Linked DNA regions of Homo sapiens: regions 2 and 3 are each linked to region 1. The links come from fine-mapping of genetic effects on gene expression. A gene starts in region 1. Each other region holds a variant in brackets. All regions are shown on one strand. Distances are between the middles of the regions.

Region 1 (7,195 bases):
CAGACAGATCCTAGGCAAAGGTACACCTTCTAGAGTGAAAACATCACCCGTTTCTCTATTTGACAAAAAAGGTTATTTATTTTAACTTTAAATAATATTTCAGATCCCGTCCTCACAGATAATAGAGAAAAGACAGGTAGTAGAGAAAGTCACTGCCTTGTTCTTGAGACAGTCTTTCAGACCATTTTTAGTCCTGCCTGGTTTTTACTCTCAAATGAAATCTGGATGGTGTGGTTTTACAGGGTATGTCTCATAACAATGATGAAAAAAGGAGAATTTAAGTTAAAATTAATTAAGGAGGCCCTTATTAGAAAAAATAACATTGCAGATATTATATAAGAATGAATGAAATAGAAACTACAGTTTTTATGATTAAGGTGTTCATTCCAAAGATCTGATAAAAATTTGTCTTTGAAAGATTAGTCATCAAAAGGCTTGAAAAGAGTGAAGGATACAAAGTCATAGGTTATGCCCCATTCCTGACAAGGGCATTTATGGCAGGAGCACCCGACCTGGAGGCAGGGACCAGGCTTCTCAGCCTGGTTTGGCTCTCTCTAGCTCTGGGCCTTGGGTGAGCCAGGGGTCTCTTCTGTAAAATGAAAAATTGGTCTATCAATCCGAGGCCCTCCCCTAGCCCTACCATCCGTGTAAAGCCATAAGCCTTTGTAACTCACCATCAGAATCTCTAGGCCTAAAAGAACTCCCTCTAAAATCAGTTCTAGTCAAACGCCAGCCTGGTAGTTTTCAATCCTTGTTAAGGATTGAAATCCTAAAATCTTTTTAGGGTTAAGATCAGAAATGTAACCTTAAGGAAATAGAAGAAAGCAGCTGAAATACATATTTTTAAAGTGATAAACTGATTCTGATCTATTTCTCAGGGGGTGAGGGGGAAGGCAATACAGTGAACTTGGAAAAAAGAAATATTGAAATGTCAATATAATATCTTTTATGGGTTCAAGAATTTATCCTAAACTTTATCTTTTACTGTGACAGTCCCAGAGTCCTCAATAAGAGCTTCAAAAATTTTAGTGGGGTTTCTGGAAGAGTGCTATCACTATCTGGAAATTTCTAAAAGGCTTCTCTCTTTTTATAAAAAAAAAAATTCCTATGTTAAATCTATGATTTGTGATTCTCAACAATGGAATACTAATGGATACTCAAAAAACACTAATTGCTCATTTTTTTCCTAATTACGAAATGTAATAATTCTTTAGTGAAAACATTAAACATGATGTCATTTTTAAAGTGCCAGACTTTGTATTTAAAGCATTGCCACAAAATAGATAGCTTACTTATTTTACAAATAGCAACACAAAAAGGGTCTTCTGTGTCTTTAAGTCTGTTTAGCATATCTGAAAGTGCTTCTTCCTCACACTTAGATATTTAAGGCAATTGCCCCCCAGTTTATTACCTTATCTCAATTGTATAATTTTCTTAAATAGAATTCAGAGAAATAGTCATAGATTTAAATTTTTAAACACTAATTAAGCATTGGTTGATTCCCATAATACAGCTGGTAGTCAAAGTGGACAAGATAATGAATTGACTGAGATCACTGTTCCATCTTCATCCAAGAAAGCTGCCTCTAAAAAAAAAAAAGACCTTAAATTGCTGTAGAAATCCAATTTGTAAGAAGCAAAAGAAGCATATAGATGGGAAACACCAGCCAGGATCACATTAATTTTGTGACTAACTGCATTGCTTAGAAGAAGAAGAAGGAGAAGGAGAAGGAGAAGAAAGAAAAGATGACAAAAATAATAAGTCCACTCAAATCCCAATTTTAATCCAACAACATAACCAGAAGAAAATGAACTACAAATACAAAGTTCACATCTTAGTGATCTAGTGAACACTACACACCGACAAAATAATTTTTAGCTTAGTAAGAAGTAAACTCCAATGACAAGAAAATATTATAGGATTGTGATACCTCATTGCTAAAAAGTAGATTATAGTAAGAAATTGGGAGTCTAGGAACTTGCCATCATGGAAACTCCATGATTGATTGGTTTTGAATGTGCAGGTGTGGGAAACTGACAAATCATTGTAACAAAAATCTTAAACTTACTAGAATTGAAAATCTATGCAGGAAAAGTCTCTGTGACAAACTACCATTCATTTAGCCACCTATTCAAATAAAAGCTGTGACATAACAGAGATCTAGAAATAAGGGCATGGTTTCCAATTTTTTGTTGGAATGTTCTAATAAACTATCTTCTCAGGTATCAACTATATAAGGTCACGACTGACCGCTAATTGACAGGCAATTTATCGGCACCAGCAATTTACATTAAAAATAGTGGGCTTGGAGATATTTTCAAATATGTTTACTATGAGTTAAGTTGAAAAATAAAAACCACTATAATCAGTAAGGATTTAAAAATAAGAGATCCATATAAAATGCTATAAGCAAAGGAAAATGAGAAACATTTCTGGGGAGACACAAGTGAGTTTTATTATACTTCTTCTTTTAAGTTTTAGAACTAAAGTAATAGTTGATATTCAACCCATAGAATCATCCTTCAGGGGCATACACATCTAGGTTTGAATGCGGAAAACTGTTTTATTGTTTTTTTTTAATTTTTAGGTTTCTTTTTCAAGAACTTTCTTATTAAAACTTAAATACTTATTGAAGTGATTCATGAAACCTCACAGAAAGGGGAATTCATGCTTGACACATTACTTAACATGCTCCATAGCTTCCCCACTGTAGTTCATATGCTTCTGAACATATTTTACCTGGGAAATAATAGTCTTATTCACACACACACACACACACACACACACACACACATCCTTCCACATAAAATGCTATAAGTCCCAGGAAACTGACAAAAGCAACATTAAAATTTTGTGCAAAATCTAAACTCCATTTCTGAATTCCATCTATGAAAATACAACATTGGTTCTATTTAACTAAGTGCAAAGTTTTCTCTCTGTTTAATATGCATAATAAACATCATCCTTACCATTATCTGTAGAATAAAAGCAGCAACGTGTTGCTTCCTGCAGTCACCAAATCAAGTTTTTTCTTCCTTTCTTTCTAGTAACTTCTGTTTCACCAGCAAGATTAGGAAGAAAATAAGTCTTGAGTATTTGCCTCAGTATTTCAGACCAGAAGATAGTGAAACTAGCTTTTAGTAAAAAGAACAGGTCTGGTATTTTACAATTACTTCTGCAACCCAGAGGTACCTCCTAGACTCTGGTACCTCCCTCGTTCTCTAAGTTTCTTTTAGTAATGAGACTAATTTTTCCAGTAGTCTTGAACTCCCTAGATTTAACTGACATGGAAAATGTGACTAAAAATTTGTGGAACTGTCTAGCCTCCAACCCTACACAGAATCAACTTTGTTGTAAATGTTGAAGAACACCTCGCAAGCAGCTACATGCTCAGTTTATACTCCTGCGCTACGCAGCAGAGAACACCAAATAACAGTGCGCCATCTAGTTAGCAAGCTGCAATCTCCATGCTAGAAGGGGGGACACTTTCAAACCCTGGGAGTTAAGAACTTGTCAGGGTTCAGCTGCTCTAAAGGTCCAATTGTTTGTTTAAATAAAAAAAAATATCGCTACTGAGATAATCCACATCTAGTGGATATGGGAAAATTTAGGTTATAATGGCACTACAAACTTTTACATCTAACTTTGATTTACAAGATAAAAGCAAGTTTTAAATTAAAAGGGCTTTCTGTTAATAGAGCTTATTATTCTGAAGACGGGAATGATTTTCTTCGAAAGTTGTCCCTGGGTGCATGCCTATTATCTTTGCTTTTCCCCTTCCACTAATGAGCATTTATCTAAAGAGCCTGTTAATCCTCTGATGTGTGCTTCTGGTCAGAGGTAACAGTTTGAATAAAACCACTAATCACTGATCACTAAATCACTGATCATTAATCACACTTTCCAGTGCCCATGACTGGGCCATTTTTTTTCCTTTAAGTCTATGCATCACAAACAAGAAGTTCAACATTTTCGATGCACATATATTGTGTGGAGGTTACACTATTTCATCTCTAGATGTGAATAAATACTAAATCCTGCCACAGACTTGGGGAAGGATGTCAATTAGACCCCAGACAGGAGTTTCACAAATGCCTACCCTACAGCATGGCTTTCGCTTTGAAGAAAGTAGATCTAATTATAAGAAAACATGTGTTCTTCAAGAAATTCCCACATATTTGCAATATAAACTTTTCTTTATTTAGTTTTCACCAACTCCAAATCAGGGACCACTCCAATCCCCTCTCTCCCTCTATCCAAAACTCTGTTAATACTTTTTTAAATTTAATTTCTGCTGCACACCTCCCTCACGCCCCCACCCCCCCACCCCCCACACCGAGGGTTCTTTTTACTTTGATCCCTTGCAACAAGTCATACACAGGGTCTTTATTTCAACTGCCAGATACGGAGGTTCTGACTCAGTTCAATGACTTACGTATTCGACTTCCTCTTTCAACATAGAAACTTAAGGTTAAGAGCTAGAAACTAACGCACGCAGCAATTTATTGTATGGAAGTTTAGGTTCAACGACTCACATTCCCTCACTTTGGAAATGAAACGTTTAGTCTTGATCCTTTCAGCTAAACCTGATTTTGTCAGCATCCCTCTTCTGCTAAAGGGCAGGCACTACGTAAAGTGAAATACTTTGTTTGCAGTGGGTGTATTGCTTTCCTAAGTCACCACCACGAGGACAGAGTATTATCATAACGCTTGCAAACATTTCCTGATTTGCCTTTTCTATCAGGACTAAGCATTTTCGCCCTAGAGGAGAAGGCTTACTGGTGCCTTTCTTAAATAATACAAAAGGGCGGATTGCGCGCTGATCAGGTACAGTGGTCCCCTCAGACCCCAGAAGCTTTTACCCACACTCCAGGGACCGTGCTCGCCCCAGGGAAAGCTGTAAAAAGGCGGGGGCGGGGCTAGAGTGATAACGGTGTAGACGGGGGAGTGGTGGAGAGGGAGGGGCTGGGAAGAGAGGGCAATAAAGATGCCCAGGGAGCCGGCGATTGCACGAGTGTGTTGTGGGGAGGGTAGGGGGATGCAAAGCAGAGTTGCTTTGTCAGCATTCTAAGCTCCTGAACCCTTGAGGAGCTCAAGCCGTTAATCAAACACTTACTGGCCTGCAGAATGACGTAATGGACCTGTATCCAGTCTTTATTCCTTGACACATGTCAGAGAAGGAGGGAAAAATAAAAATCAAACACATTCTGCAGACTGACAACGAAATATACAAGTAGCCCGCTCCAGTCCCCGGCCTTGAGCAAGCATCAAGTGGGGGCGGCACCGGTCCAGGGAAAGTTGGGGATGGGGGTGAGAGTGTGGACAAGGTCTAGGGCTTTATCTACCAGACGCCCCTTAAAAATAAATCTATGGCAAAGAAGAAGCGGGATGCAGCTGCTGAGAGAAAACATCTCCTTGGTTCCTTCCTTCGCATCTTGCCCCTCTAAGAACTTCGTGAAAAGTTCAAGTGATTCTGCCGAGAATCTGCCGCAGGGGGAGACTCCGCCGCCAGGTCTTGGGAATTGCCTGGGCGCCGCCAAAGCTCGAGCCGGAGCTGTCATTTGGGGCAGCGGCCGGGAAGAGGTAACGATGCCAGCAAGAAAGCAGCGGAGGCAGGAGGCGGCCGGAGGAGTGGACTGGAGCGGACGGAGCCTCGCCGCTCTCCAGCCCGGAGCGCCTGGAGCGAAAGCCAAGCGCCCTCCGAGGGCGACCTCCCCTCCCCGGGCGCGCGCCCACCCGCTGCAGCCGGCAGCCCGGCGGGAGAGGTGGCAGCTGCAGCTCCGCACCGGGGAGAGCGAGCCCCCTGCGCGCGCGCCCACCCGCCCCCTAGGTGACCCGGCGTCCTCGCCGCGCCCGCTGGAAGTTTGCAAACTTTCTCCGGGGGTTCCGCCGCCACGCTGGGAAGCTGGGGACGCGGGGGGAGGTTCCTGGCTCGCCGTCTCCGCTGCCGCTTGACCGCACTTCTGGAGGGCTCCGCACCTTGCCAGGTCTCTGGAGGCAAACACACACCCCCGATTCATAACTGGTCCCCGCGTCAGGGGACTCGCGCGCTCCCACACACGCACGCACGCCGGGCGGACTCGGCGCCGGCTCCACGTTAGCATCCCTCCAGGCGCGCGGCGCGGCGGCCACCGAGCGCTCCGGCACTCACGCGGCGCGGGGTCTCTAGGGTGGCCTCAGGACACAGCCGAATTCCACAGTCTACCAGCACTCGGGGCCGGACTTCCCTCTGGTCCGCCAAAATGTTTACAAACACAGATCACCCTCCAGAAAAAAATGCATCGCATCTTCCCTACTCCTTGCCCTGTGACCTGCCCACTGGACCAAGTAACCTCGCGGCTGCTGCCGAGAACCAACCCCTGCAAACAAGTACACTCCCGAGATGGCTCCTGCGGCAAGTGCAACAAAAGTGGCTAAATGCAAAAGCCCCAGAAGTGGCCGAGCCGTATTTTTAGGAACTTACCAAACAAGTGTGGAGAAGGCAAGAGCGGAGCCCGGGTGAAGGGACCACGTTGGACTGAGCAAAGATTACAATACATTCTATTTAGAGTGCATTACATCACCCCCCCGGTGACGTCACGTGGGATTCCTGAACTTCTAAATCATTGCGGTCCGCTGGGGAGGGACGGAGCGAGGGGCGGGGCCGGCGCGTCGAGGGGGCAGGCCCCGCCCCGGTCCCGCCCCGACCCCGCCCCGCCCGCGCGGACCCTGGTGCACCCGCCCGGGAGCGGCAGCGGCGGGGGCGACTGCGCAAGCAACAGCTTGCAGAGCCCAGCGCCGTGTGACACGGCTCCCTGACATTAGTGGTGTGAGTCAGCTTGGAAACAATCCTTATGGTTTCAGACAAGACCACGGAGGAGGCGCGGGCGTGGGCTCTTCTGCGGGGAGGGCCTGATGGGGTTTGAAAGGTGTAGGGATGGGGGTAGGGGAGAGGTGGGGAGGGGGATGCTGAAGGATGTGGGAAAAGACTTTGCAAACAGAAATGCAGGACGCTCCTCCCTCCCCCACCGGAGGATGTCCAGCTCCTTTTTGCTTGCGACAGTCATGACCTCATTTCAGTGCTCCCTGCATCCTGGCTTTTCAGAGCACTCACTTGTCACCCCTTCTTCACCGCCCCCTCATCTCACCTCCTCCAGGAGAATAACTTCCTTATGGTGCACACTCTCATGAAATACACAGCCCCACCCTTCGCGGG
Region 2 (7,195 bases), 260 kb before region 1:
ATGGCCTACACTGACTTAGAAAAGGGCAGTAGAGGTAAGGTATGGGGCGGGTGGTTTCTGGGGTCCAGGGGACTCAAGGTAATCTAAGAGGCCAAATGCCATAATGGTTACTTCAAATTTATGGAAAAAGAACAGGAAAATACCCTAAAATTTTCAAAGTACTTTGTTAATACAATCTCACACAGTGTTGGAGCATGAAAATTTTAAAGTCCAAATTTCCTCATTCTGCAGGTGAAAAAACTGAACTAGGGAGAAGTTAAGCTGCTTGCTTGCTCAACCACTCCAGACCCCCTTCTGAGTAATTCAGAGCTGTTTCTATGACAGCACTGGGAGGGCTGGTATCTCTGGATTGTAGGGGAGGTCTCATCCAGTAATTTCCCTGAATTCGTTGTTGGCTTTGGGCTGGGGAGTGGAAGCTGTGAAACTGAACAATATGTCAGCCTTGGGTCTGAGGCCCAGGGCATTTCCCGTTAACCAGGTCAAGACAGCCAGTCTCTGTCAATCAGAGTTTATCAGAGCCTATTTTATAGTACGTTATTAAATGCCATGATGTTTTTGTAACCAAATAAATGCATTATGAAAAGAGCATTTTTTTTTTCTGCAGTTCTGTACAACATCCTGGATCTGTTCTTAGAAGCAGATAAAAAGCAATAGGGACTCTAGCCACAATAATACCAATTTATATGTGTTACAAAGCAATCTGTTATCTCCTTTAATCTTCTTAAAACTTTTCCCAAGGAGAAAGCTGAGATTAGAAAGGTGTAATGACTTGGTCAAGAACACAGATTTATTAACTAGATCCCAGGTCTTTTAAAACCTAGTCCAGTGTTTGTGTGTGTGTGTGTGTGTGTGTGTGTTTTTTTTTTTTTTCCATAATACAACTGATCTCCTTGTCTGGTGTCCTGAATGTGTGTTGTTTTATTTTAGAAAGTGATTTTTGTATTTAATTGTTTGGGATGATTGCAACTTGTTTTTTAATTCATTGTAGTAAAATATACGTAACAACAAAATTTACCATTTTAATCTTTTTAAGGTGTAAAGCTCACAGGCATTAAGTGCATGGTTGAAACTTTGAAGGTAAAAAAGATTAAGAAAGTGTAATAATAATTATTATAATAAAAATAAGAGCTAACCAGAAAGTCCTTGCTAAATGCCAAGCAATGTACTAAGAGCTAATCTGTAAGGTCTCTTCACATTCTAAAAGTAAATCTGGCTATTTTTATCTTTCTTTTACAGTTGAGGAAACAAAAATTCAGACAGGTGAAGTAACTTGCCCAAGGTCACACAGCTGGCACGTGGCAGAGTCCAGTCACACACTCAGGCAGTTGACTGATGTGTTCATACTCTAATCCACCACACCTTGTTGCTTTTTCTTTGAGGCCACTAAACAAAACAAATAAGAACTGAAAGGCTCAATTCGTCTTTCTTGGTTTCTCCGTCTGGTTGTAACCTTCACATGTTGACTGGCGACTAAGCAACCCAAGTCCCACCAGAATTTTAGATGAGGTACCTGAGACAGGGAAAAAGGCCAAAGTCTCTTGCTTCTCCCCAGTCTGAAAAATTAGGATTGCTGTGTTCTAGTTGAACTAGCAACATCTAAGAGTCACCCAAGTTACCCAAAATTATGCTTATGCTAAAGCAAGCGATAAGAGAACCTCAGTTTTCTGGGAAGAGATCATAGAAAGCAGGAAACGTATTTTTAAATAGGAAATGTCTGAACTCACTTGACAATAAATGTCACTAAAAAAACTCAACCAATTTAGTACACACTTTTTTTTTTTTTTCTTTTTGAGACAGGGTCTCACTCTGTCACCCAGGCTGGAGTGCAGTGGTGAGATCACGGCTCACTGCGGCCTTGACCTCCCAGGCTGAAGCAGTCCTCCCCACCTCAGCCTCCCACGTAGGTGGGACTACAGGCCTGTCCTGCTCATTTTTAAAAATTTTTGCAGGGACAGGGTCTTGCTATGTTTCCCAGGCTAGTCTCGAACTCCTTGCCTCAAGCGATCCTCCCGCCTCAGCCTCCCAAAGCACAGGCATGAAGTCACCACTCTCCGCCACAGTTATATTTTCTGCAACAGTCCATTATCAAAAAGTGTGTGGCCAAGTGCAATTGCCTGAGGCCAGGAGTTCGAGACCAGCCTAGGCAACATAGTGAGACCCTGTCTCTATTTAAAAAGAAAGGGAAATGGATTTCTTTACAAATTGTTTTAAAGAAATGTAATGGTAACTTCCTCAACAAAGCAGGCTACTACAGAGTTGTGGAAAGAATACACACTGTACCAACATGCACATGCCTATATATTTTCATATTAGTGAACTTCTTTGTTTTGACTTGTATTGATTTATAGTTCCAGGCTTTTTAGATGGCACATGGGAGATATGTAGAATTAAAGACAAACTTAAGACAATTTCCTCATATAAGCTACATATCCCCTTATGCCGTACTCTGTATCAAAGTAGTCATAGATGAAATATGTTTATATTATTTTGGGGTAAAGTGTCAGCTTCTCTTAGTCTGCATTAATGACTACAGAAAACATTCCTAATGATGGAAACACAGTAGCCCAAATTCAGGTAAATGGTCTTAACGGAGAGATACATTTAAAATCACCGACTAAAAGGCAATGAGCTCAAATATAGTAGCCCTGCCTTATTCACAGCTTGGTTTTCTGCCGTTTCAGTTACCTGCAGTCAACTGCAGTCAGAAAACAGGTGAGTACGGTACAATGAGATATTTTGAGAGAGAAAGAGAAACCACCTTCACATAGCTTTTATCACAGTATATTGCTATAATGGTTCTACTTTATTATTAGGTATTGTTGTTAGTCTCTTATTGTGCCTAATTTACAAATTAAACTTTATCATAGGTATGCACGGATAGGAAAAAGCAGTATATAGAGGGTTCGGTATGATCACAGGTTCAGGCATCCACTGGGGGTCTTGAAAAGTGTCCCCTGTAGACAGGGAGAATTATTGCAAGCACTTTTCAGACCATGTACCAACTGGTCTCAAAAACGTTTTACTTTCTCTCGCATGTGGCAGAGAACATGAGAACACGGTCAAAGGGGATAGTGACAGCAGGAGAATTGGTACAGAAAGCAAGAAGAGAAGCCCAAGGTAGCGGGGGCTCCCCTTGTTGTGCCTGGTGTGTCTGTCCCTTGAGCAGCCCTTGGCTTTGAGCTGAGAGTTACATCCTTATGGCAGGGCACAGGACGACGCAGATCCTAGGAGCAGGTGAAATTACAGCAACAAAGATTCTTGACACAGGAAACAGACTTCCAGAGCTTACGGTAAAACAGTAAATGCTTTACTTCTATGAGCTTGGCTTGTAGCCACTGTTATAAAAATCAGCCAAGCCGTCCCCTGTTGCCCTTGATGTGATGGTCCTGTGTTGAAGATAGAGTCCCACAGTGGTGTTTTGTTGTTGCTGTTTCTTTTTATTTTGAA[AT/T]AACTTCCGATTTTCAGAAGTGTTGTAAGCCTAGAGCAGAGCCTTCCTGTATGCCCTCCACCAGCTTCCCCTCATGGTAACATCTTACACAACCCCGGTACATTTACCAGAACTGAGAAATTGACGCTGGTACAGTACTATTAACTTAGCTTCAGGCTTTATTTGGATTAGTTTATTTCACTAATTTCATTTCCAGGAACCAATCCAGGACACAAACATAAAGGGGTTTTAATCATTTTATTCCCTTGCTCAAAACACAAGCTCTCAATTGCTAACAAATCAAAGTAAACGTTGCCTAGTTATTTGGTCACATCCTATATTTTAGCATCATCTGCCACTATTTACCAACACGTACCCTGTAAGTTTTGGCTAGAACCAAACTGGACATGTTTGATTTTTCTCAATACATCTTGATCTTCCCTACATCTACAACTTTGCTAATGCTGATCCTTCAACTTGAAACATCCTTCACAGCTCATAGTTCTGCAGTTTCTATGAGACCCATATCAAATGTTTTCATTGCAAGAAAGGGTTCCTGGTACCTCAAGCCAGATGTGTTCTTTCTTGACTAAGAATTTCTGATGCACAGTATTGGTGCCTTTCTCGTGTTGCATACTGGGAAGGATACCACTACACGGGGCCTCAGAGCAGGGCAGAGTGAAAGGACAAGGTCTAGAACTGAGGGTCAGCAAGAGGGCCCCAGCCTCTGAAAGAGGAGGGTAGCAGCGGGCCGTGGACAGAGCATTGTGATGAATTTGACATGAAACTTCACACTCTCACTCACCGGTAAAACTGAATGCCATGGCACGCTTGAGGCCTAACAATATGATCTGATTCTAATACAGACTGAAATTATAGAAATAATATCAAAGAACCAGATAGTTCCTACCTAAAATACTCCCCGTTGCTTTCAATGTAATAAAACCTATTTTCATCCAAATCTGTTTAGAAGAAAACCTAACCCTTTGTGAACTCATTTTGTTTTGGTTTTTGTACATACTTCCTTCTCCCTTCCTTACTATATTAAAGATTAAATCAGTATTTTTTGTTGTAACATAAACTTTACAGGAAAACATATATTTCATTGGCCATAGCAATTCTTTTGTCATCGTATAAAACCACACTCACAGTTGCATAATTAAAATAGGATTCTGTATAGTTACAAACATATAATAAAAGTAATTACTAAAATAATGAGAAATAAACTTTGACATGTCCAGAGATGTTTACAAAACCCAGACAATGGAAAAGAATATATGACCCTTCATTTTGGAATGCAAAGCACTCATTTTTTCCTTCAATTAAAAGATGCTATACTCTTTTTATTAGTTTTCTTATATATCTTTTAGCATTAAGCTAGCAAAGAATTTAATAAAAACTGAACAGCATAAAGTGAGGTCATGCATTAGACCTGGGAAGGGAAACTTCATGAAGTTTCTTTCCGTGTCCTCATAACAATGAGTCCTGAAACAAGTAGAGTTTATAAGAGACTTAAACGTGGTACAACCTAACTATAGATTGGTTTATGAAAATGTGTGATTTTTGTATACAACTCTGTAGTACTCAAGGCTGGGGAAATTATGCAAGAAGAAGTATGATTAACTTCATGTGACTGAAAGGCAGACGTGCATTTTTTAAACCTTTAAATTGTCTCACATAATGTAAATATTCTCCTTTTTAAAGGCAAAGCAAAAGTTTGAAAACTTTGTTAATAAGAACCAAATATTAACCACTTGCCATATTTTTCAGTCTAACATATTTCTCAAAGAAAAGTATAAATGTGGACTAATTTCGAGTCCATTAAACAGGTATTTGTTTTCGTTTCCTCGGCTTTGTCATTTTAAGGAGACAGGCTGGATTCGGCTTCAAAAATGGTTGTATAGAAAAATTTTTATTTGCAAACTTAGAAACATTTTGTGAGTTTACAAATAAACAGAATGAGTTCTTATATAACACCAAGAAGTTTTCTTTTTTAACGGTTTCATCTTTTTTTTCTTTTCTCTCTTTTATTTTTTTAAAACATCATCTACTTAGAGAATGATTCCCATCCCAAAGAAAATATTTGGGCAGATTTATTCATATCCTTGGTTTAAAAAGGATATAAGCAGGCTAAGCGTATTTCATGGAAGAAAGGAAATATGCCCACAGTTTCTTTTATATATTAACAAGTGCTTTTTATTCCAAAACCTCAAAATATTCTGTATCTTTAAAAATTTGAACACCCTCAAGACAGAAATTTCTAAGGGGTCACATAGCATTTTAATTGCCCCAAACAAAACTTGCTGGCAGTTTCGAGCAACTAGATAGGAAGGGTAAGTGCTTACAAGAACACACTCATGCCAATAAATAGTATCCTTGATAATTCTGATTGACATTCCAGCTCCCACAGTGGGATTCAACAGCCCCACCCAGGGACAGCATGCATCTGAGAACTGTTTGAAGGTGTATATCTTTCGGATTTGTTTACAGTGGCTTGTTCACGGTCAGACAGAATTTTCTACATGATTCCAAGAGCATCAGTCCTCGTTTCACTCTTCACAAAAAAGCAGATCCCCAAGTCTTGTCGCTGGTGACCTATTTGATCCAAGCAAAGTTTGTGACAAGCAAGCTCCACTATAATCAAATAACTAGGGAAATCATTTTGAGGTTTTTTTTTTTTTTCCTAAGAAAGGGTCTCTCTCTTTTGTCCAGGCTGGAGTACAGTGGCATAATGATAGCTCACGGCAGCTTTGAACTCAAGTGAGCTCAATTGATCCTCCCGCCTCAGCCTCCAAGTAGCTGGGACACACTCCTGGCTAATTTTTTTATTTTTTATTTTCCCAGGTTGGTCTTGAACTCCTAGGCTCAGGTGATCCTGATCCCCCTGCCTGGGCCTCCTGAGTAGTTGCAATAACAGGCGTGAACCACCATGCCCAAGTTTGACAAAGTTTGTTGAAGTGGGATTTAGCTTGCAATGTATCCATTTTCTCCTGTTCTGTTGTACCCTTTCTTTTCCTCTTCCCTTTCTTTGGGCTATCTGGTCCATGGCGTTTATTTTAAATAAAAAATATATATATTTTAAAAGTAAACAGGGTTTGGACTGATTCTCAAAAAAGCCGCACCTGCATATGTAAAGGATCCGTTAACATCAGGAAAGGAAAGTGATTTGGGACTGACTCAAGTCAGGGAACTACCCACTGAATCATCACTGACACCTCCAGGGTTTCTTTGGAGGTCTCTCATAAGAACAGGGATCTAGCCCAACCCTGTTCAGCTTATGAGAGCTTAGCTGAAGGTGGTATGGCTGCTGGCCACATTACTCATTGGGGATATTGAGTCATATACATTTATAAGGGGTGGGCACAGAACATTAAATATCCCTAAGGTGTTTTGTAGCTTGAATGGTGTTGCTGAGCACACAGAGGGACAGAGCTCAATTTCTGATTTTGGGTATGACATGCAAGTTTCATCTTCACAACATGTATTTCTCATTTATTATCCAAACTTTTGGCAATCGCTCCTTATAACTCAACATTCACAGATTTCCAAATAAAAATGTTTACTATTTTTTGAGAGATGAAATGAAAAAAGACAGCAAAAAATAGATTTTTCTTACTGTTTTTTCTTTAGAAAGTTTAGGCCATTTAATCCATCATGGGTGGAATGACTTTTACATGGGATATTTTTAAGGGTGTCGGCAGCACTCTTTGTTCTTCCTTGTGCTTTAGACTTGCCTCTTAATTCTACTTGCGTAAGTTAACCTCAGAA
Region 3 (7,195 bases), 290 kb before region 1:
GGTTTGAGCTTGTCAGTTAGTGTATTTTAACGAATAATCTGTGGTGGAATCCACACCTAGCACAATCTTCCAATATCTATATTCCAAATAGATGACGGAATTTTGCAGCTGAATGGCAATAGCTCCAGCAGCAAGAGACTTCCATGAAAACAGAACTCTTATAAAAGATCTATTGGATCTTCCCGGCAGCCTCTGCTTATCCCGTGCCTCCTGCAAGGCTCTTCGATTCACTGCTGCCCTCACTCATGCTCTTATTTCACCTTTTCTCGAATCTCAAGGCAGGGTCTCTTCGGCAGTTTTCAAATATCTCTCCTGGGAGACCAAATTTATGACACCCTCCACCCAGCCACTCGCTGGGATTATTTCAGCTCTTTAAAAGGCAGCGCTAGAATTTATTAGCTCCACGATACATTGGCAGGGGAGGGATGTGTCGGTGGCCCAGAGGGAGTGGTTTTCAGCAGCTGTGACTACATGCATGGACTATGCAACCTTGGGCTGCTAAAAGCCTGATTTCTCAAGTTCTATTCTTAATGATAAAGTGATAGCGTGCTGAGAGGATCACTTATTCTCCAAGGAAACATGAACAAGGAAAGGGGCATTGCCTAACAAGGCTGAGCAAACTCTTCACTGGGTTATATCCTAACAGAGAGCTTCAGGCTCTATCTCAATCACCGCTGTGATCAAATCACCAAAAACCCTGGGATCAGAGTGAGGATTCCCAAAGGGATCCTTGTCAGGCATCATGGGGAGAAGGGGGAGGTGTGGAGAATTTGGAGAAGGTTCCAGAGAAGCATGAGAAAATACTAAAAAGCCGGAAGGGAAGACTTAATGGGAAAAGTAAAGGAAATAAGACTTCTTTAGCCCATGGGGGAGACATTAGAGAAGGCTGGCAGATAATGATGATGATCTTCAAAGTTGCAAATTACTATAATCTGAGAATGGTCACCAGTTACTTTCAAACACAACTGAAGCAGAATAGTAACAGTACATCAGCAGCATGTGGATTTAACTTAGAAAAGAATATCTCCCAAGAACAAATAGTGTAAAACAATTAAATGGCTAATAGAGATTTTGAAATTTCCTCTTCTTGGGCTCTTAAAAAATAGACTTGTCCCTGTCTGACTTGCTTTCTAGGGAGAAGGAGGAAGAACTGGCAAACCTCTCGGAGTCCTAAATTAGGTCTATTATTGTCACTTATTCCAGACATAGTGGCTGACAGAAATGATAGAGATAACGCTGACTCCCATCCTTAACCAGGAAATCCAATAAGGTAGCCTTGTGGGGCTGACAGGCATAGGCTTTTGGCCGCCTCCTGGCTCTGCCACCGACCAGGAGTGTGTGATCTTAGCAAGGCATCTAACTCCTCTGTTTTCTCATTGGCAAAAACTACGTGGCTGTAATATCCATGTCACAGGTATGGCATGAGAATGACTTTAGAGAATATTTTGAGTGTGCTTAGCCCTTTGAAGACGATCAATGCATAATCTATTTAAGAGATGAGTGATCTGCTGTAGAAAATACAGTTAATACAACTGTCATTTTAAAACACAAAGTAAAGCTATATTGTTCTAAATTTGGGGGTGAAGCATTTGGGGAAAAGACCCAGAAACACCCAGCCTCTCCGAGGGGTATGGGTGTCTCCTCCATTACTGTGAGTCCCCAGTTATCCCCCATCCTCTTCTCAGGGAAGCCGGCTTTCTCTCCATGCCAGACCCCTTACAGCAGGTACCAGTCTCTCTTCTAGGCTGAAGGGAGAATATTTGAGAGCACTGAGCTTGGCACACAATAGGAGCCCCACAGAGGTTTCTTAACAGACTTAACAACGTTACCTCATGGTCCACTATCTCTTATTTCCTGGCAGCTATACCCCTATGTCACATCCATGACAGTCATCTTTTTAAGGGCTATGATAACTTGAAACACTATCCTGATTTCTAGGGACAGTCAAGCTACCACTGGCTTGAACAGGGGGTATGGGGGAAGGGTGAAGTTTCTAGGAAACTGTGTGCTCTCTCTTGTGCAACCTTCCCTGAGCTACCTTGCAAGTTCTCCCACTTTGCAAGAGCACTTATCATGAAGCAGAATTGATATTAATCTGAAACACTTAGTAAAATAGTAGCAATAAAGCTCATAATAATGATACTTGGCATGTACTTTACACTTTGCATTCAAGGATCTCAAATGGCTTTTCAACCTGGCTTTGCTATTTTCCAAGCTACTCATGGACTGGACACACAAGCAAAGAAACCACTGAGTATGGCTTCCCTGTAGACAAAATTGATTCCATTATTAGGTTCTGAGATTGACACTGTGTCCAATCTATGTACATAAATACACCTGCTACATACAAACACCCACAGATACCTACATCCTAAAGGGCAAAAGTGCTAGAAAGATTTTTTTTTTTTTGAGATGGAGTTTTACTCTTGTTGCCCAGGCTGGAGTGCAATGGCACGATCTCAGCTCACTGCAACCTCTTTCCCCCAGGTTCAAGCAATTCTCCTGCCTCAGCCTCCTGAGTGCCTGGGATTACAGGCAACCATCACCATGCCCATCTAATTTTTTGTATTTTTAGTAGAGATGGGGTTTCGCCATGTTGGCCGAGCTGGTCTCGAACTCCGGACCTCAGGTGATCTACCCGCCTCGGCCTCCCAAAGTGTTGGGATTACAGGCGCAAGCCACTGCACCCGGCTGAAGATTTTTTTTTGTCTCAAACACACTTTTGCCTGTATTAGCAGGAGAAACTCTGGAACCCAGGTTTACATTTTAATGGACTTGTTTTATTTCGATATTTCTCTCAACCCTCTTCTCAGGGTATTTATAAGTACAATTGAAATGTCTGTGTCTGTTCATTAAAGGCATGGAATTTTAAAAGGCTTACTTTTCTTTTGAGTTCATTCTAAAGAATATTTTGTTTACGTTTAAATGATTACTTAAAAGCCACAAGGGGTTTATATAAAGTGTTTCTTCTAAGGTACTTTTCTCTTCCCTGGTGGCCCTGCATGTTGCCAAAGAGAGTGACTTGCTCAGTTTCTCAAATGATTCCTCAGACAGTCCTATTCCTACTTGCAAACAAATGTGGTATTTGGGGTTTCAAGTTTAAAATGCAATTTGGTATCATTTCAGATGTCTTCCTACAGCTTAATAAACATTTTCCCCAGAGGGACTTGGGGTCTGATTTTAATTTGTGGTAGGGTTATGGGCACAGTAAATGTCAATTTTAGCTATAGACAGTAAGTCCCTAGTATAAATAGAAACGGAAAGTGACTGACAGTACACTTAAAGAACATGCAAAACATTATGCTTGCTCACTGGCGGTAAGTGTTCCCCC[A/C]AAAATCCCTTCACTGGTCTGTCATGATAGCTTGGTTTTCTTTTCTTTCTTTCTTTTTTTTTTTTTTTTTGAGTCAGAGTCTCACTCTGTCACCCAGGCTGGAGTGCAGTGGTGAGTGATCTCGGCTCACTGCAACCTCTGCTTCCCGGGTTCAAGCAATTCTCCTGCCTCAGCCTCCTGAGTAGTTGGGATTACAGGTGGCTGCCACCACACCCAGCTAATTTTTGTATTTTTAGTAGAGATGAGGTTTCACCATGTTGGCCAGGCTGGTCTTGAACTCCTGACCTCGTGATCCGCCTGCCTTGGCCTCCCAAAGTGCTGGGATTATAGGCGTCAGCCACCATGCCCAGCCGATAGCTTGGTTTTTTTCTTCAGATTCCTGACCAGAACAGAAAGGCCAAATTGTGCTTTCTTAAGATGTGTCAACCTGATGATCACAAAATGACAAAGTGAAGTAACTGAGTCCTGCATGATATGGCTTTGAATATGAATACACCAGCAAGAGTGTCTACTGACTCAGCCAGTCATTTGCCTGGTGATCTAGGGCTGTGTCCTCAGTGCCTCTGAGTTTCTGTTTCCTCATGCACACACACACAAAAAATGGCTGAACCAACAATCTTCAAGGGCCTTTTCAACCCTAAAGTTAAATGAGTAGATATGATCAAGAGAGAGTAATCCGGCTGGGTGCAGTGGCTCACATCTGTAATCCCAGTGTTTTGGGAGGCTGAGGCGGGAGGATCTCTTGATCCCAGGTGTTTCAGACAAGCCTGGGCAACTTAGCAAGATCTCATCTTAACAAAAAATTTAAAAATGAGCCAGGCATGGTGGGGTGCCTGTAGTACTAGCTACTTGGGAGGCTAAGGTGGGAGGATCACTTGAGCCCAGGAGTTTGAAGACACAGTGAGCTATGATCGTGTCACTGCAGAAACAGAGACTCTGTCTTAAAAAAAAAAAGTGAGAGATCCAGAACTATTATTTATTTCAGGGAAGCAACACGTCAGTTAAAGGTAGATTTTCCTCAAAGGTGGACACATATAGATGAGTAATTCCTTACTGGTTGTTCTTGGACTTTCCTTTCCTTGAACAAAAGAAAGGCTCAAATGATCTCTGAGTGCAAGTAACATTTAGCTGAGGAGGGCAGCAGGAACCAGGAATCGTGACAGGTAGGCGAGGAGGTCATTTCTTCTCACATATGAACAATAATCCTTTGGATGAGCAGGAAATAAAGGTTTCACTCTTTGTGCACTAGAATAAGTAATTTATTAGTAAGCACAATGACATCTTTTAGGAGAGGTAGGACAGGTCCCCAAATAAGCAGTTCTGTCTTTTCAGTGTTGGAGCCATCAGACTCATTGGGACTAGGTTTAAACTGGACATTTTGAGAATGATGAAAATCCTCCAGGTCTGCCAGGAAAAACATTTCACTACTTCATAGTAGATGATACCTGACACCACCTGCTAAAGAGCTAAGATGACATTCCCTAAGTGCCTAGGTTGAGTCCTATGGATGATCCAGTCCATGGTGCCTGTGATGGTAGGTTTTATGTCAACTTGACTGGGCCATGGGTTGCCCAGATATCTGGTTAAACATTATTTCTGAGTGCACCTATAAGGTTGTTTCTGGAAGGGATTAACATTTGAATTGGTAGACTGAGTAATGCAGTATACCTTCCCCAATGTGGGTGGGCTTCATCTAATCCATTGAGGACCTGAATAGAAGAAAAAGGTGGAGGAAGGTTGAGTTATCTCTCTCTCTGCCTGATTGCTTGAGCTGGGACATCTGTCTTCTCCTGACCTTAGTCTGGGAGCAACACCATTGGTGCTTCTGGTTCTCAGGCCTTCAGAATCCAATTGGAATTTACACCATCTGCTTTTCTGGGTCTCCAGCTGGCAGATGGCAGATCATGGGGCTTTTTAGCTTCCATAATCTGGTGAGTCAATTCCTTATAATAAACCATATATCTCTCTCTCTTTTTGGTCTGTTTTTCTGGAGAACCCTGACTAGTACAGTGCTCCGTCTTTAGATCTTTCCCCTCATATTTCCTTAAATATATTTGGTAGAAGTGAATTAGCAGAATTTAGTCATTAACTTTGAGATTCCTCATCTTGTACTTCTAATCATTCACCAAGTTCTATTCACTCCACCCCCAAAATAGACCTGGAGTGTATCCACTTGGCTCCATCCCTACTGCCAAGATCCTAGTCCAAAACACAGTGTTGTTTCTCTTGGTTTCTTCCAACAGTTTCTGACTCCAGTTTTGCTCTTCTTCTATCCAAACTCTGTCTTGTAGCCAGAATGATCTTCATAAACCAAAGATCTGGTCATGACATTTCCCTGTTCAACATTCTTGCATGATTTTCCTTAGCATTTAGGATGTTTTTTCAGTATCTTTTATATGTTCTACCTCATTGATGCCTGTAGTACTATCTTTCCACCTGGCTTGAAAGGGTCTATCCACCCAAGCTTCCATTCATTTCCTAGAATGTGCCACACTCTTTCCCACCCCAGGGCCTTGAAGCATCTTTTGATCTTTGCCTGGAAGGTTTTGCCGTCTGCTCTTTTGTTGACAAATTCTCATTCATCCTTTAGGTCTCCTTTTAAATATCTCTTTCTTAAAATTTTCTTTGACCCCCAAATTAAAGGCCAAATCTAGCAACCACAAAGTTAAAGGGTCACATAGGCCCCTGTGGTTTTCCTTCATGCTATTTCTAATAACATATTAATAGGTATGGTTATTTTGTTTAGTATCCATCTCTGTGATTAGTCTCAAATCTCCCTGGAGGCAGGGGCTATGCATTTGGGTAAAATCATTCTGGTTTCCTTTCACCATTGGGAAAATGTACGCTTACTTTCTGGAGGACACTGCTCCGTCTGGATGGAGAAGCAGAAAGGAGAACATCATAACATAGTTGGAAAGGCTTCTAGAAGTGAACAAGATTGATCCAACATAAGTGAGCACCGGAGTGCTTGCCTCATGATATTGGTAATAGATCTTTCTGCTTTTCTGAAGCCTGAGGCTATTTCTCTTGACAAGCACAAAAGTGAAAATGCCAAATGGAAATGTTTTCTTTCCAAGGCTTATAATTTTGCTTTCGGGTAATACTGAAACATTCAAGTGTTCTTACGAAAGTTAAGTGCTTTCCATTTTCACCATGGTTTCAGTTGTTGAAGCTCTCCAGAAGGATCAAAACCTATAACTTTTATATAAAATTCCCAAGCATCAAATATATATGCCAAACAAACCTCTTTAATTAAAATAAGGCTGAAAGAGCTATAATTATAAGTGCCACGGACTGCTATTCCTTATAAGGAAGAAAACTGAAAAAAGACCTTCTGTTATATTACTCAAAAACAAAGCAAACAAAATCAATGATTTCAAAGTCTAGCATGGCTGAGAAAATTCATTTTCTTAATATGGATTGAACTTCAGAGTGATAGGGCAGAGTGGACATACAAGAATGACTGTCTACAGCAAACTTCTGGCAGACTCTTTGGCCTATTGGTTCACAGCCAGTATTTGTCTTCATAAATGAATTCCACATCTTTATTAAGTTAAGTATTTCTCTTTTTATTATTTGAAACATACTTTAAATATTTTGTTTTACAACGTCCTGGAAACTGATACAATTCCTTCCAGATCAAGGAAGATGGTAAAAAATCAATTATATTTTTTTACTTATGGAGCAATTACAAAAAAATTATGCTCCAATTTATCCATTACTATAACTATCATTTGATGTCATATGTGAACAACTTGGGCAGCTGGAATGGAAGGTGTCCTTCTGACTAGGTAATTTTTCAAAGAGCTCTAAGTGACTATTAGATAGAAATATATACCCCTAGTTTGAGTTGATTTGTAGACG

Alleles and levels. Positions count from the first base shown, and alleles are read on the strand shown. Sizes are in standard deviations (SD) of each study's normalised expression. Not every link is listed here.
For the expression in monocytes after R848 of the gene that starts at base 3,369 in region 1, allele C in region 3 goes with a lower level than allele A (small effect, 0.39 SD a copy in Quach 2016).

What was found. PIP is the estimated chance that this variant, and not a neighbour inherited with it, causes the effect. A credible set is the group of variants that fine-mapping cannot tell apart.
Region 2: its variant is the best candidate, but not a certain one, in a credible set for the expression of CREB5 in blood mononuclear cells (TOPMed, PIP 0.50).
Region 3: its variant is the best candidate, but not a certain one, in a credible set for the expression of CREB5 in monocytes after R848 (Quach 2016, PIP 0.51).

What each region holds. Positions count from the first base shown.
Region 1 is chr7:28,408,692-28,415,886 of GRCh38, reverse strand. It overlaps CREB5 (cAMP responsive element binding protein 5), which reads right to left and starts at 3,369. Exons shown (of 11, transcript NM_182898.4): 1 at 2,970-3,369. The coding sequence starts at 2,972. RefSeq lists an enhancer at 3,283-3,372 and silencers at 6,645-6,714, 6,683-6,977.
Region 2 is chr7:28,665,851-28,673,045 of GRCh38, reverse strand. All of the region lies in intron 5 of CREB5 (cAMP responsive element binding protein 5), which reads right to left. Among named protein-coding and RNA genes, the nearest start is that of CREB5, 260 kb to the right of the region's middle. The variant AT/T (reference allele first, on the strand shown) is at 3,448.
Region 3 is chr7:28,701,571-28,708,765 of GRCh38, reverse strand. The region is part of intron 5 of CREB5 (cAMP responsive element binding protein 5); the gene reads right to left. Among named protein-coding and RNA genes, the nearest start is that of TRIL, 250 kb to the left of the region's middle. RefSeq lists an enhancer at 3,926-3,995. The variant A/C (reference allele first, on the strand shown) is at 3,332.